Linked DNA regions of Homo sapiens. The protein of the gene in region 1 purifies or fractionates together with the protein of each later gene. This does not show direct contact. Each region holds a gene or a part of one and is shown on either strand. Other genes may lie near its edges.

What was found.
Region 2: the proteins of KCNE1 (region 1) and GPR89A purify together in Homo sapiens (affinity purification with mass spectrometry, with the first as the bait; one large-scale study listed by BioGRID). This does not show direct contact.
Region 3: the proteins of KCNE1 (region 1) and INTS7 purify together in Homo sapiens (affinity purification with mass spectrometry; one large-scale study listed by BioGRID and IntAct). This does not show direct contact.

Annotation. Positions count from the first base shown.
Region 1 is NC_000021.9:34,509,319-34,513,729, reverse strand, and holds the start of KCNE1 (potassium voltage-gated channel subfamily E member 1), read left to right. Parts: upstream 1-1,519; 5' UTR 1,520-1,703; intron 1,704-2,405; exon of another isoform or gene 2,406-2,414; 5' UTR 2,415-2,629; intron 2,630-4,411. UniProt on the Homo sapiens protein: Ancillary protein that functions as a regulatory subunit of the voltage-gated potassium (Kv) channel complex composed of pore-forming and potassium-conducting alpha subunits and of regulatory beta subunits.
Region 2 is NC_000001.11:145,606,533-145,610,811, forward strand, and holds the start of GPR89A (Golgi pH regulator A), read left to right. Parts: upstream 1-1,455; 5' UTR 1,456-1,601; coding exon 1,602-1,643; intron 1,644-2,085; exon of another isoform or gene 2,086-2,143; intron 2,144-4,279. UniProt on the Homo sapiens protein: Voltage-gated channel that enables the transfer of anions such as iodide, chloride, bromide and fluoride which may function in counter-ion conductance and participates in Golgi acidification.
Region 3 is NC_000001.11:212,025,550-212,029,195, reverse strand, and holds part of INTS7 (integrator complex subunit 7), read left to right. Parts: intron 1-3,513; exon of another isoform or gene 3,514-3,635; intron 3,636-3,646. UniProt on the Homo sapiens protein: Component of the integrator complex, a multiprotein complex that terminates RNA polymerase II (Pol II) transcription in the promoter-proximal region of genes.

The DNA.
Region 1 (4,411 bases):
TAGCCAATGGCTCATAGTAGACGTTCAACACGCAAGTGGATTGGATAGATGGAAGGATAGATGGGTAGATGGAAAGTTGGATGGATGGATGGATGGATGGATGGATGGATGGATGGATGGATGGATAGGGATTTTGGAGGAAGAGGAGTGAGCAGTCACTGAAAAGAATAGAAAAATAATGAGGCTTGCTCCCTCTCCCTAGTCAGAAGAGCCAGTAAGCAGCTTAGAGCTTTAATCCCACAAATTGTCAGGCAGCTGGCGCAAGAACAGGGAAAAAGAGAGAGAGAGAGAGAGAGAGACCCTGTCTGTGGTAGGTTATGGTCATCAGTGAAAAAGAACAAAAACCTTTGTTTTAAAACTCTCCTCAAAACAGATGATTGGCTAGAGGGTGCGGCACAAAGGAACTTGTCAGGGTGATGGAGACATTCTGTATCTGGATTGAGCAATGCAAGAACCTGGGTAAAGACACAGTCATGGTAACAGCTGTATACATCTGTTGAAAACTCATCAAACTTATCATATTTAGAAAGGGTACATTTTGCTTCATGTAAAGTATGCCTCAATAAAGTGTACTTGATTTTAAAATCAGGATAAAGGAAAAAAACATTGATCTTGGATAATGGGCAGGGGTTGGGGAGAAGGTCTTAATTATCATCATATCCTTTTAAAAACGTTTTTCAAGTGTGTGATGCTCTGATGACATTCTTAAGACACAGCAAGGCAAAGCAGTATCCCAAATGAGAGAGTGAGCATTCCAATAAATATTTTCTGTAAGACACTGATATGTCTATGACTATTTGCTAAATTTAAAAATCAACTTGGACCATATTTACTCCCTTAAAGTCTAATAGACGACTAATTTCTTCTATGTTCAGAACAAATATGTTGCTACTTTAAGAACAGCATACATAGGTGTGGTCGGCCCTCTGTGTCTAAGGCTTCTGCATCTGTGGATTCAACCAACAATGGACTGAAAATATTCCAAAAATAAAATAAAATTAATGAAACAACAACAAAAATAAAACAAATAAAAAAATGCCAGGTAACAACTACTTACAAAGCATTTACATAGTATTAGGTGTTAGAAGTAATCAAGAGATGATTTAAATCACCATCTATGATTGGCTGATATGCATAGGTTATATGCAAATACTATGCCACTATATATAAAGGACTTGAACATTCGCAAATTTTGGTATCTGCAGGGGATTCTGGAACCAAACCCCATGGATACCAAGAGACAACTATATATAAAATACTGAAAGAGGCATGGAGAGTGATTTTCAGGCCTCTACCTAAAGCCCTGAATATTAGAAATTACTGAATTTCTTCTCAGGAAGGAAATTACGCCATAAACCAGTGTTGCCACACACCCAGAGAACAAGATGACCCGACGCCCCAGCCTGGTCATGCCACATGAGCTGAGCAGTGGGTAGGCCACTGAGCCAGTGATAGAAATCACAAATTACAAAACGTCAGAGTACTTTCTGGAAATAAGCCTTCCTCTCCAGGGAACAACGCATTTGACACTTGACTGGGATACACTACCGGATCCTCCGAGGGTGATGGTTCTCAAGAAGGCAGAAGCAATGGTGACCAATAGACCTCCTTAAAGGCTGAGCCGCTGGGCACCTTCCTACTCCTCTCGACCGTGCTAGGATGACTGCAGCAGAGTCCCCGAGTCCTTTGATGCAAGGGTCTAGGTGAGTTCGAAGGAGAGCCATACTAGGCCAGGCAGAAAGGCCCATGGTGATGGCTGTCCACCCTGGTCAGGGGAATTCTAGGTTCAGGCCATGCGGCAAGGTCACCTTGAGGGACATGCTTTGCTCTAAGCTCAGCTTAAGTGTGTCTGAACCCCCCTCACTTCTTCCAACTGCAGAAGCACATGGAGAAGGGGGAGAAAGGGTTGCCCACCTCCTAAAATGAGGGCAGCGTGGTGAAGAGCCCCATCATGCCCCACCAAGGTCCTGTGTGCAGGGCAGGGCAGTGCCTATCCAGAAGGCCAGACCTCTAACTGCTGCTCTGTAGGACGTCCGGGCCTCACATGCAGGCTCCTATAAGCTGGCTGTCTTGGCAAGAGGGCCCTGGTACAGCACTGTGTTCATCACAGAAAACCACACCGTACATAATTTGTAACAGACAGAAATGCATTTGGCTCATGGTTCTGGAGACTGGGAACCCAGGATGGAGGGGCCACATCTGGCAAGGGCCTTCTTGCCATGACATGGTGGAAGGTATCACAAGGTTGGGGAAGGAGGGGTGGGCGGGGCGGGAAGAGAGAGAGAGAGAACAAGAGAGAGAGAATCCATTCATAAGGGTGGAGCCCTCATGACTAAACACCTCCCATTAGGTCCCACCTCCCAACACTGTTGCTTTGGGGATTAAGTTTCCAGCTGGCTTTTTTCAAACCTTAGCAACCACCAAACAGACAAGCCCTTCGGCCTGTCCTGGAGGGCGTTGAATGGCATGGCCTGGAGCTCAACCAGGAGAACCGTGCTCAGGAGGAAGAGACCAGAAGGATAACTCAAAAAGTTCTGAGAAGTTCCTAAGACCACCTGAAGAGAAGGAGCCTGCTGCCAATGGTGTGGACACCGCAGTGTGCTTGAGGAGACTTCAGAAACGAGAACTGGTAGGAGAAGGGGGTTGCACAGACCCTTTCCTCAGTTAGGCACCCTCTGCTCCCACCCTCATGCCCACCCTGACATCAGGCTAAGGGAGAGGCGCTCATCCATTGACAGGTGCCAGGCTGTCCTGGGCCTGGCAAACCCTGGCCTTGTACACCCACTCTCCACACGTCTGCCCCCACCCTCCCAGGGGCAGGGCCGGGCTTCCCTGCAGAGACACAGGGCAAAGAGGGAGAGAGAAGGCCTCAGGCCAGGGCATGGCCTAGTGCCTCCCAGCGCCAGGTCCTGACAGCCTGAGAGAGCTGGAATCAAGGAAGGTGATCCTGGGCCCCAGACAGACGTCAGTGAGCTTCAGCCTCTGGTGGCTGCACACCAGCCAGGGCAGCAGCGCCCCCTCCTGCCTGTGTTCAGCTGTGTGGGCTGCAAGAGGACTAAGGAGAGTTTCAAGGAGGCAGGCAGTGGGGGAGGAAGTGTCCCAGGTAGAGGCTGAAGCTTTAAGGAGGATGGGAGGGGAGGCTTCACCCGGAAGGAGCTTTTGGAGCAAGGGCCTGAAGGAAATTGGGGAGAGAGCCTGAGTATCTTTGGTAACTGGGAAGAGAGCATTCCAAGCAAAGGGAAAAGAAGAGAGGCTGTCAGACAAGTGTGCACCCACCATGTCTGGGCACATCGAGAAGGACCCTGTGGCTGGAGGGGAGGAAGGAGGGGAGAATGGAAAGTGAGACCAGAGGTGACCTGACCAGGGCCTTCGGAGCCCCGGTGAGGGGCTCAGCGGGTGGGTGTCATGGGTGTGAAGAGGTAGGTCCCTCATCACCAGTCAGCAAAGCGTTCCCTGGGCTCAGCTGAAGTCCTGCTGGAGTGTGTGCCCCCTGGACTGGAGGGGATGGGATTGGTGGGAATAAAGTTGTGAGTTTGGAGTTGTGGTGAGCAGAGCACGAAGTGAGCCCCCAGCACTGCCACTTCCGCGTGAGGGGTGAACTGGCCCTGCACTCTCTCCCCTTGAGTGTGGGCAGGACAACCCTCTCTGCCTACAACGGCTCAGCACTCGTACTACTGTGGGACAGTGCTTCTGTGATTACGTTCCTTTATAGGAAAAATTGATTTTGCAGATGTAGGTAAGATCTGGACTCGTTTGACTTTGAGTTTATCAAGAAGGATGATTGACAGACACAGTGGCTACTTGAGAGTGGAGGGTGGGAGGAGAAAGAGGATCAGAAAAAAATAACTACTGGGTACTAGGTTTAGTACCTGGGTGACGAAATAATCTGTACAACAAACCCCCATGACACAAGTTTACCCCAATAATGAACCTGCACATGTACTCCTGAACCTAAAATAAAAGTTGAAAAAGGGGCCAGGCGTGGTGGCTCACGCCTGTAATCCCAGCACTTTGGGAGAGGCCGAGGCGGGCGGATCACGAGGTCAGGAGATCGAGACCATCCTGGCTAATGTGGTGAAACCCTGTCTCTACTAAAATTACAAAAAATTAGCCAGGCATGGTGGCAGGCACCTGTAGTCCCAGCTACTGGGGAGGCTGAGGCAGGAGAATGTCATGAACCTGGGAGGCGGAGCTTGCAGTGAGCTGAGACTGGGCCACTACACTCCAGCCTGGGTGACAGAGCGAGACTCTGTCTCAAAAACAAAAAAAAAGTTAAAAAAAAAAAAGAAGGAAGATTATCCTGATGGGCCTGACTCAATCAGGTGAACCCTGAGAGGACACTGGAGGGAGCAGTGGTGTCCCCTGCTGGCCTGGAGCTGCCACAAGGTGAGACTGGGGTGCCATGTGGCCA
Region 2 (4,279 bases), on another chromosome or scaffold:
TAGCTCCTTGAAATTCTGGATCAGGGATTGGACATCTGACAGGTAGTTTTGACTGCTTGGTATCACAGAGTTCAATCCAACAAAAGGAAGACATGTTCCCTTGTGTATAATGAATCTGCAGATCACTTATTCAAACTATAGTAGTCTGAACTCAGATGCTGGATGTCAGGTCCCCTCAGGATTGTCTTCCTGCGTCTTGACTGCAGCCACTCCTACACAGGGTGATTTCCTGGGCTGGAGCCAGTTTGCAGGACTATGAGACTATATAGACTACAAAGCCTAGCTAGGCCCCAGGTCGGCGGCAGAGTAAGCCCCACAGCAATGCGTTAAGCCTTCATGAAATGAGTGTTGAATGAATGAGGTAGTGATTCAGTGTATATTTGATCCACTGCAATAGGTGGGAAGGGGGCAGAGGCAGCTACTTCCTAAAATAACCCTTCTTCAGACTCTTAAAGAACTGATCCTTGTTTTGAATTAAAATCTATCTTCATTTAACTTCCAGTCCTTTGCCCTACAGATAATTCGTAGCGCCACATCAGTTCTACCCATTCTTTCACATGAAGACAGATGTCATGTTCTGAGTCATCTTTCTTCGCCTCCTTCCAGCAGCCCTTATCTGGTGGCTCACATTTGAGCGAGCTCCAATATGTCTCTGTAGAATCTCTCTCTTCTTTTTTCTTTTCTTTTTTTTTTTTTTTGAGATGGAGTTTCGCTCTTGTTGCCCAGGCTGGAGTGCAATGGCGCGATCTCGGCTCACCGCAACCTCCCCTCCCGGGTTCAAGCGATTCTCCTGCCTCAGCCTCCCTAGTAGTTGGGATTACAGGCATGCACCACCACGCCCGGCTAATTTTGTATTTTTAGTAGAGACAGGGTTTCTCCATGCTTGTCAGGCTGGTTTTGAACTTGCGACCTCAGGTGATCCGCCCGCCTTGGTCTCCCCAGGTGCTGGGATTACAGGCGTGAGCCGGCCCGGCCTGTAAAATCTCTTCAAAGTGTGGTACATGGAGTGCAGTACTCCACCTGTGGCCTGACTGATATGCAGTACAATATTATCACTAAATTGCTACAGACAGTGTGCTTTTCATTGTTGTCACAGAAATGTATTTGGTTAGTTATATTTGTTCATATCTCATCTGACTTTCCAGTCTTCCCTCACTTTGTACAGTCATATTTGCCGAGTCAAGTAAAAGTTATAACATTTAGGACACAATGCCCGACTTACTATAATTACCATTATTATCTTAGGATCATTACAAAACAGAATTACCACTTAGCTCTCAGGCCCTACCTCCTTCAGCCTCAGAAACGTTAACGCTACCTTGCATTGCTGCTTTTAGCACCGCCCCTAATAAGCCCCGCCCCTGGGGCCTCCGCGGCGGGAGCCTAGCGTCCGCCCCACCCACCCCGAGCCCGAGGCGGGGCTGTGGATGTAGACGCTGATTGGCTGACTGGGGCGCAGCTTGATGGCGTCGGGCTGGAGAGCCGCAGTCCCGGCTGCAGCACCTGGGAGAAGGCAGACCGTGTGAGGGGGCCTGTGGCCCCAGCGTGCTGTGGCCTCGGGGAGTGGGAAGTGGAGGCAGGAGCCTTCCTTACACTTCGCCATGAGTTTCCTCATCGACTCCAGCATCATGATTACCTCCCAGGTGAGTCACCGCCTCCCGCCCCGACACCCGTCCGCCTCCCTTTACCGAATCGCCCTCTCCGGTCCTCCGCGGTGCGGGCTGGTCCGGGGTCTCGCTCCTCTCTTACGCGTCCTGCGCTAGTCACTCTGGCACCCAGAGAGGGTGTGCGATTTGCTGCGGCCGGTTCCCTCAGCCCCGGCTGTCAGGAGACTGGCCTGCGGCCGTCCGCGTCCCCACCCGGCATCCATCCCCGGAATTTCGGTCCACTTTTGGAAGCGGTCCGCCGACCTCCAGGCTAAGAGCCGGCGCCGCCAGCTAAGGCGGCGGTTCTAGGAGCTCCTCGAAGCTTCCGGGCTGCGCCAACTGATCCTGGACTGGGGAAGCCTGTGTGGTTCTGGGCGCGCGGTGTGCGACGCGCCAATACTGGATACTGAGGACACGTCAGTGCAGGCTTTGCTGTTAGATGTCAAATCCTGAATCCGGGTGTGGAGAAATTTGCTGCTTCAAAGTATCAGTATAAGGTAATACCTGTGCTTGAAAGTATAAGGTTTCGTTTTTGCACTGACACCTCGTCCTTTATCCTCTGCTTAGTTACCCACCTTTTCCGGATGTTTTTCTGACCCTCATTTCTTCTCCATTGGCCACCTTCATTTGTTTGTACAGTCAACAAACATTTATCGACCATTATATAAAGCTCTGAGCGTAAAAACATGTAAGACACTGTCTCTGCTCAATAGAAGTTTCGTCTAGTTAGCCTCTTGCTTTTACCATGTAATCTATTGTTAATTATTGTTTCTTCCTAGCATTCATCATAGCACTGGCATCATTTATGTCTGTGTTTCTGATTTTGTTTTTTGAGATCCTGCCTTGTTCATAGCTGTATCCCCACTTCCAAGTGCAGGCATTCAATAAATAATTGTTGGCCAATATTTGTGAAGCTCAGACTGCCTGTTGACCTTCTTCCCCCCATCTTTCCAATAAAGATTTTGTGTGTGTGTGGTTGTTTTTACTTGTTCTTTCTCTCAAACGGCAAATAACAGAAGCAGTTACCTTTGGGGGCTTAAAGTGAACTAAATTTGTGTTCTTTGATTCCGTTTTTGTATTGCTTCATCCTAATACTCGTCTCCGTAGAGCGGAGCATTGTCCTTTTCTCTTCAAAAACTTGTTTACAATATTTAAGAAAATAAGAAAGAAGGAAAAGCCATCCATAATCCTACCACTCTAATGCAATAGTTTTTTCATTTTTAAAATTTACCACCTTTTCTATAGTTTTCATAAGTATTGTTTTTATTGGCTGCATAATATTCAAATGTATTAATGTAAAAAAACCTAGACATGTAACTCTTCTGCTTAAAACCTTTCTAAGACTACCCAGTGCCCTTGGTGACAACTCAGGGTTATTTTTAGCCTTAGTACCAATTTAAGAAAAATAACAATATTTAATTAGCTTTTCTTTTCATTTAGAATAAAGATAAGAATGTCAGTAGAAAATTGGCTTTGCATTGCAGCCTCTACGATTTTTAGCATGGATATAATTGATACGTTGAACCGAGGAAGTGGCTTTCTAATTTTGTATGCCTTATAATCATAGACTTTCACTTCACACATGCATCCACATGCAGTAATTAATTGTTAAACCTGGTTTTTACAAATGTGGAAGAAAGACCCAAAGATTCCTTTGCATGGAATGTTCTCTGTTCAGATATTTATGTGGCTACTTTATCATCCTTTCGGTATTAATAAAAATGTCGCTTTAGGAAGGTCTTACCTGACACCCTGCCCACAACCAAAGTAGCTTTCCATTTCGGCTGCCTTCTTCCTCATTTCCATGTTTTATTTTCTTCTTGGCATTTATTACTATGGTTCATTTGTATATTCATGTGTTTGTTATCTGTCCATGAGGTCCAAGATACTGTCTGTCTTGTTCTCTCCTGTATTCACCAGCATCTAGATCAGTTGCGGGCACATAGTAGAGTTGTAGTGAATATTTGTTTAATAAAAAGCACCTCTCTAGAGAGGTGTGGTTACCTTGGAAACACCACCATTGCCCCCTGCGCCCCTCCCTGCTCATTTTTTCTGTTTTGTATTAACTGAAAGGTTTATTTGAAATGAAATCTGAAATCAGAGGTCACGTATTCAATCTTGCTCACCACGGCACAGGATGAAGTTCAAACTCCTTTACATGGCTTTTCAGGTCCCTTATTGATGGGACCCTGGCTCTTCTCTCTTCAGCTGTGGCTCCAATTTATTCTTTAGACTTCCTGAACTTCTTTTAGTTCCCTAACCTGGCGATGCTATGGTGCCTCCAGATTTCCACACAGTGTGTTTTCTCTTTCTGGGCCTTTTCCTCATATCCCTCCCCTTCTTTAAGCCTTCAGATCTCAAGTTGAACATCCAAGAAGCTTCCCCTAGACTGGACTAGATGTCCCTATACCTACTGCCATAGTACCCTTCACCTACTTCCCCTGTAACAACACTACCACATTGTTTGGTAATTACTTGTTTATCTCCTCCATAGATTATAAACTCCTTGAGAGTAGCATTCATGCTCTCATTTGCCATTCTATCCCTTGGACCTGGCACATATTAGGCACTAATAAATATTTGTTAAATGATTAAAAGGGTGAATAAATGATCCAAGAAAGGTGTCTTTTATA
Region 3 (3,646 bases), on another chromosome or scaffold:
AGCTTCTGTTGCTTGCAGCTAAGAACTGCTGATAGATGCTACTTGGAGATTTGTGCTGTTTTGAAAACTTGATTAATGTGTATCCCAAACCCCAAGTTTACCATAATTTATGGTATTCCCCTAATTCCCTAGAATTCATCACCTCAGAATTCCACCATTTAATCACTAATTTAAATGTCTCATTCTTGAATCTTAATCTCTTTCTTTCTAGTTGCTTGCTAGAGATGCATTTTAGCATAGTGGTTAGCACTATAGCCTTTGGAGCTACATTGCCAGAATTTGAATCCCAGCTCTGTCATTTGTCAGCATTGTTGTTTCTTACGCAAATTGCTTAGCTTGTCTGTGCCTGTTTCCTCACCTTTCAAATGGGGAAAATAATGGTACCTAATTTATGTGATTTTTAGTGAGACTTTAATACATGCAAAGTGCTTAAAGTGACTGGCACAGAATAAGCACTTCATGTGTATCATCATTATCATTATGATTAACTGCTATTTTGGCTAGTCTTTATTTTCATTCAGACCTCGGTATTTCACCTCTCTACATTTCTGTACCTGTTTTACTTCTTTGTTCAGCTTAGATTTCATGGTCCTTCATTTTATTAACTGCATTTACTTTCTTACCAGTACTTTAAATTCACATCCAAGGTTCCATTCTACTCATGTATCCCCAAAGGCAGTCAAAAATTGCTGCAGAAAGTCATACAGTGGGGTACATGGCTATCATCATAAATGGGAGCCGAATCTACACTGACCTTCAACATGGACCTGCAGTACTGTAATGTTTCTGCAGTACTACTATGTTTCTTTGGTCAGACACTTCTACCTTCTTCAGTAAGATTTTAGATCTTTTACTTTTCTAAAACCAGAGATCCTGGGGTTTTATGTGAAGTATGATTTGTAAAACTTGACAGTGTGTTCGAAACCTTTAAAAACATTGTGCCAGATAAAAGCATTCTGAGGACCAAATTCAGCAGCCTAGTAGTTTTCTAACTCCAGTATAATCAGTGTGGGCAGGCTAGTTAAATAAGTTATCAAGTGGCAGAAGTTAACTTGAGAATCTAGGTGCTGGCTGGGCGCAGTGGCTCACGCCTGGAATCCTAGTACTTTGGGAGGCTGAGGCGGGAGGATCACCTGAGGTTGGGAGTTTGAGATTGGCCTGGCCAACATGGTGAAATCCTGTCTCTACTAAAAATATAAAACTTAGCCAGGTGTGATGGTGCACGCCTATAATCCCAGCTACTCGGCAGGCTGAGTCACAAGAATCACTTGAACCCGGGGGGCGGAGGTTGCAGTGAGCTGAGATTGCGCCACTGCACTCCAGCCTGGGCGGCAGAGTGAGACTGTCTCAAGAAAAAAAAAAGGAATCTCGATGCCAACCTTTTCAAAGTAGTTAAACAGATGCCTGGGACTCTGCCCCATATATTTAGTAGGTTTGGAGTAAAACCCATAGCATAGATATTTTTCAAAAACTTAGCAGATATTGCTGATGCAGAACCAAGCTGAAAACCACTAGCCTGGCAAAAAGCTCTGCACACTTTAAGTGCGAAATAATGTTAGAATAATGAATGCTTTACTACTGCCAAATGAATTTTGAATGAATAAATGATTTTACAGCCTATTTTAGTTTCCCTGGTCTACATGCATGTTGCAACTGAGTTAAGCACTGTTTAAGTCCAGGCACAGAAAAGGAAGAGAGATCTGTTTTTGTTTTTGTTTTTTTTTGGTGGAAGAATACAAAATAAAATGTAGGTATAGCAATCACATCCCTCCTTCTTAATCTTATCTCTGGGCTTACAGTAGTATTCTTATGATTAGTGGTCTTATGACCAGGGCATTCTTCCTGTAGCAAGCAATACAAATAAAATGTCTAGCCCCTCTTATACTAGAACTGGAACGTGCTGAGCTCCTGTTTTCCAGTGCTTACAAAATTGGCCTAGAGCAAGCAAGATGAGTACCATACTACCCCAACCCAGGGCTGTTGCTAAGTAATAGGCCTTTAAAGCACTTTTTCCTTCTTTTTCACCTTAGCTCCTGTCCTTCGGAGCCAGCCTGAATTCTCACTACCTCTTTCCTAAGGAGGGCTCTTACATCAGAAAATACAGAAGAGGTTTAATATTCTTTAGTTCATTTACCCCGTGGCGTTGTTACAGAGGAATGAGAGTCTATTTTATCTCAGAGAAAAAAGTTTGATGATATTAGATAAATCAAAACATTCTCTCGCTTCATTCAAAATAATCTTTGGTACATTTTAAATCAGCATGTTTAAACAAATCAATATGGTCTTTGGTTCTGTTTTTCAAGGGAAGATAAAACATGATTATATTCTGTCAAGGAGACTACCTGTACATAGGCTGTTTCCTACTATGCCTTTTTCATCTCAGCCAAGGTTAATTCATTACAAACAGAACTTTACCATCCTTTGTATCTAACTCAGCTACTGACAGTGAGAAGAAAATGAAACAATCCAATTACTGTGGATTTTTTCAACCCCTTTGCCAACACATATACGTAAGCACACATCTCTGTTCCTTCTCACCTCCATCCTCAGCTATGTCTTTCCCCTTCTCTGCCCTGTGTGTCCCTTGACCCGTTTTTCATATCAGGCTTTTAGAAAAGTAAGGCTACATGAGCCACACTGCCAGCTACTTAGAATTATCCCTTTTGGCGTTGTGTTTGATAGGAAAAGGATTTCTAGAGCTTCAGAGGCAGTTCTTTGTGTGTGTAAGAGGGTGAAGGGGAGGAGGGAGCAGATGAAGGAGGGATGTGTTCTATCTCAGTTAGAAATGTTAATTAATTTTCCCATAGAAACATTTATTATAAATGGTTATTAGGTTCCAGAGTACTGTGAGTGCCGATAGTGCTATTATTTTCCTATGAGGAAATAATGTTCTAAGTACTGAATAACTAACATGAGTGCATTACGGAACATCACCCATTAGTAAATGATAGAAATTACCTATGCAGTTTTACTTTGTGGTTGTCTTTTGTATGAAACATTGTGGCAACTAGGAAAAGCCTTCAGATTTCCTTTGTCTTTTTGTTTTTTTTGGAGACAGGGTCTCTGTCACCCAGGCTGGAGTGCAGTGGCGTGATATTGGCTCACTGCAACCTCCGCCTCCCGAGTTCAAGCAGTTCTCATGCCTCAGCCTCCCTAGTAGCTGTGATTACAGGTGCCTGCCATCACGCTGGGCTAATTTTTGTATTTAAACGGGGTTTTACCATGTTGCCCAGGCTGGTCTTGAACTCCTGGCCTCAGGTGATCTGCCAGCCTCGGCCTCCCAAAGTGCTGGGATTACAGGCATGAGCCACTGTGCCTGGCCTCCTTTGTTGTTTTTTTTAAGAATAATCAAAGGTTACTGGACAGAGATATTCTAAGATACTTATTCCTGTGAGGACATAATCAGCATTTTGTGACTGGTAAAATACTAAACAGAGACATTTGAAATTGATGCTGTTAAATCCTTACCAAGGTATTCATTCTTAGTGAATTTTTTTTTTTTTTTCCTGGTACAGCTGTGACTCCAGGCAGGATCCAGAGAGGAGTTTTCCAGTCTCTTCTCTGGGTTTTGTAGAGACTTACTTTATCCTTCTATGTTAGCTTCTTAAAGCACCACATCAACCTTAAAAGGGCATAAGAAAGGGCA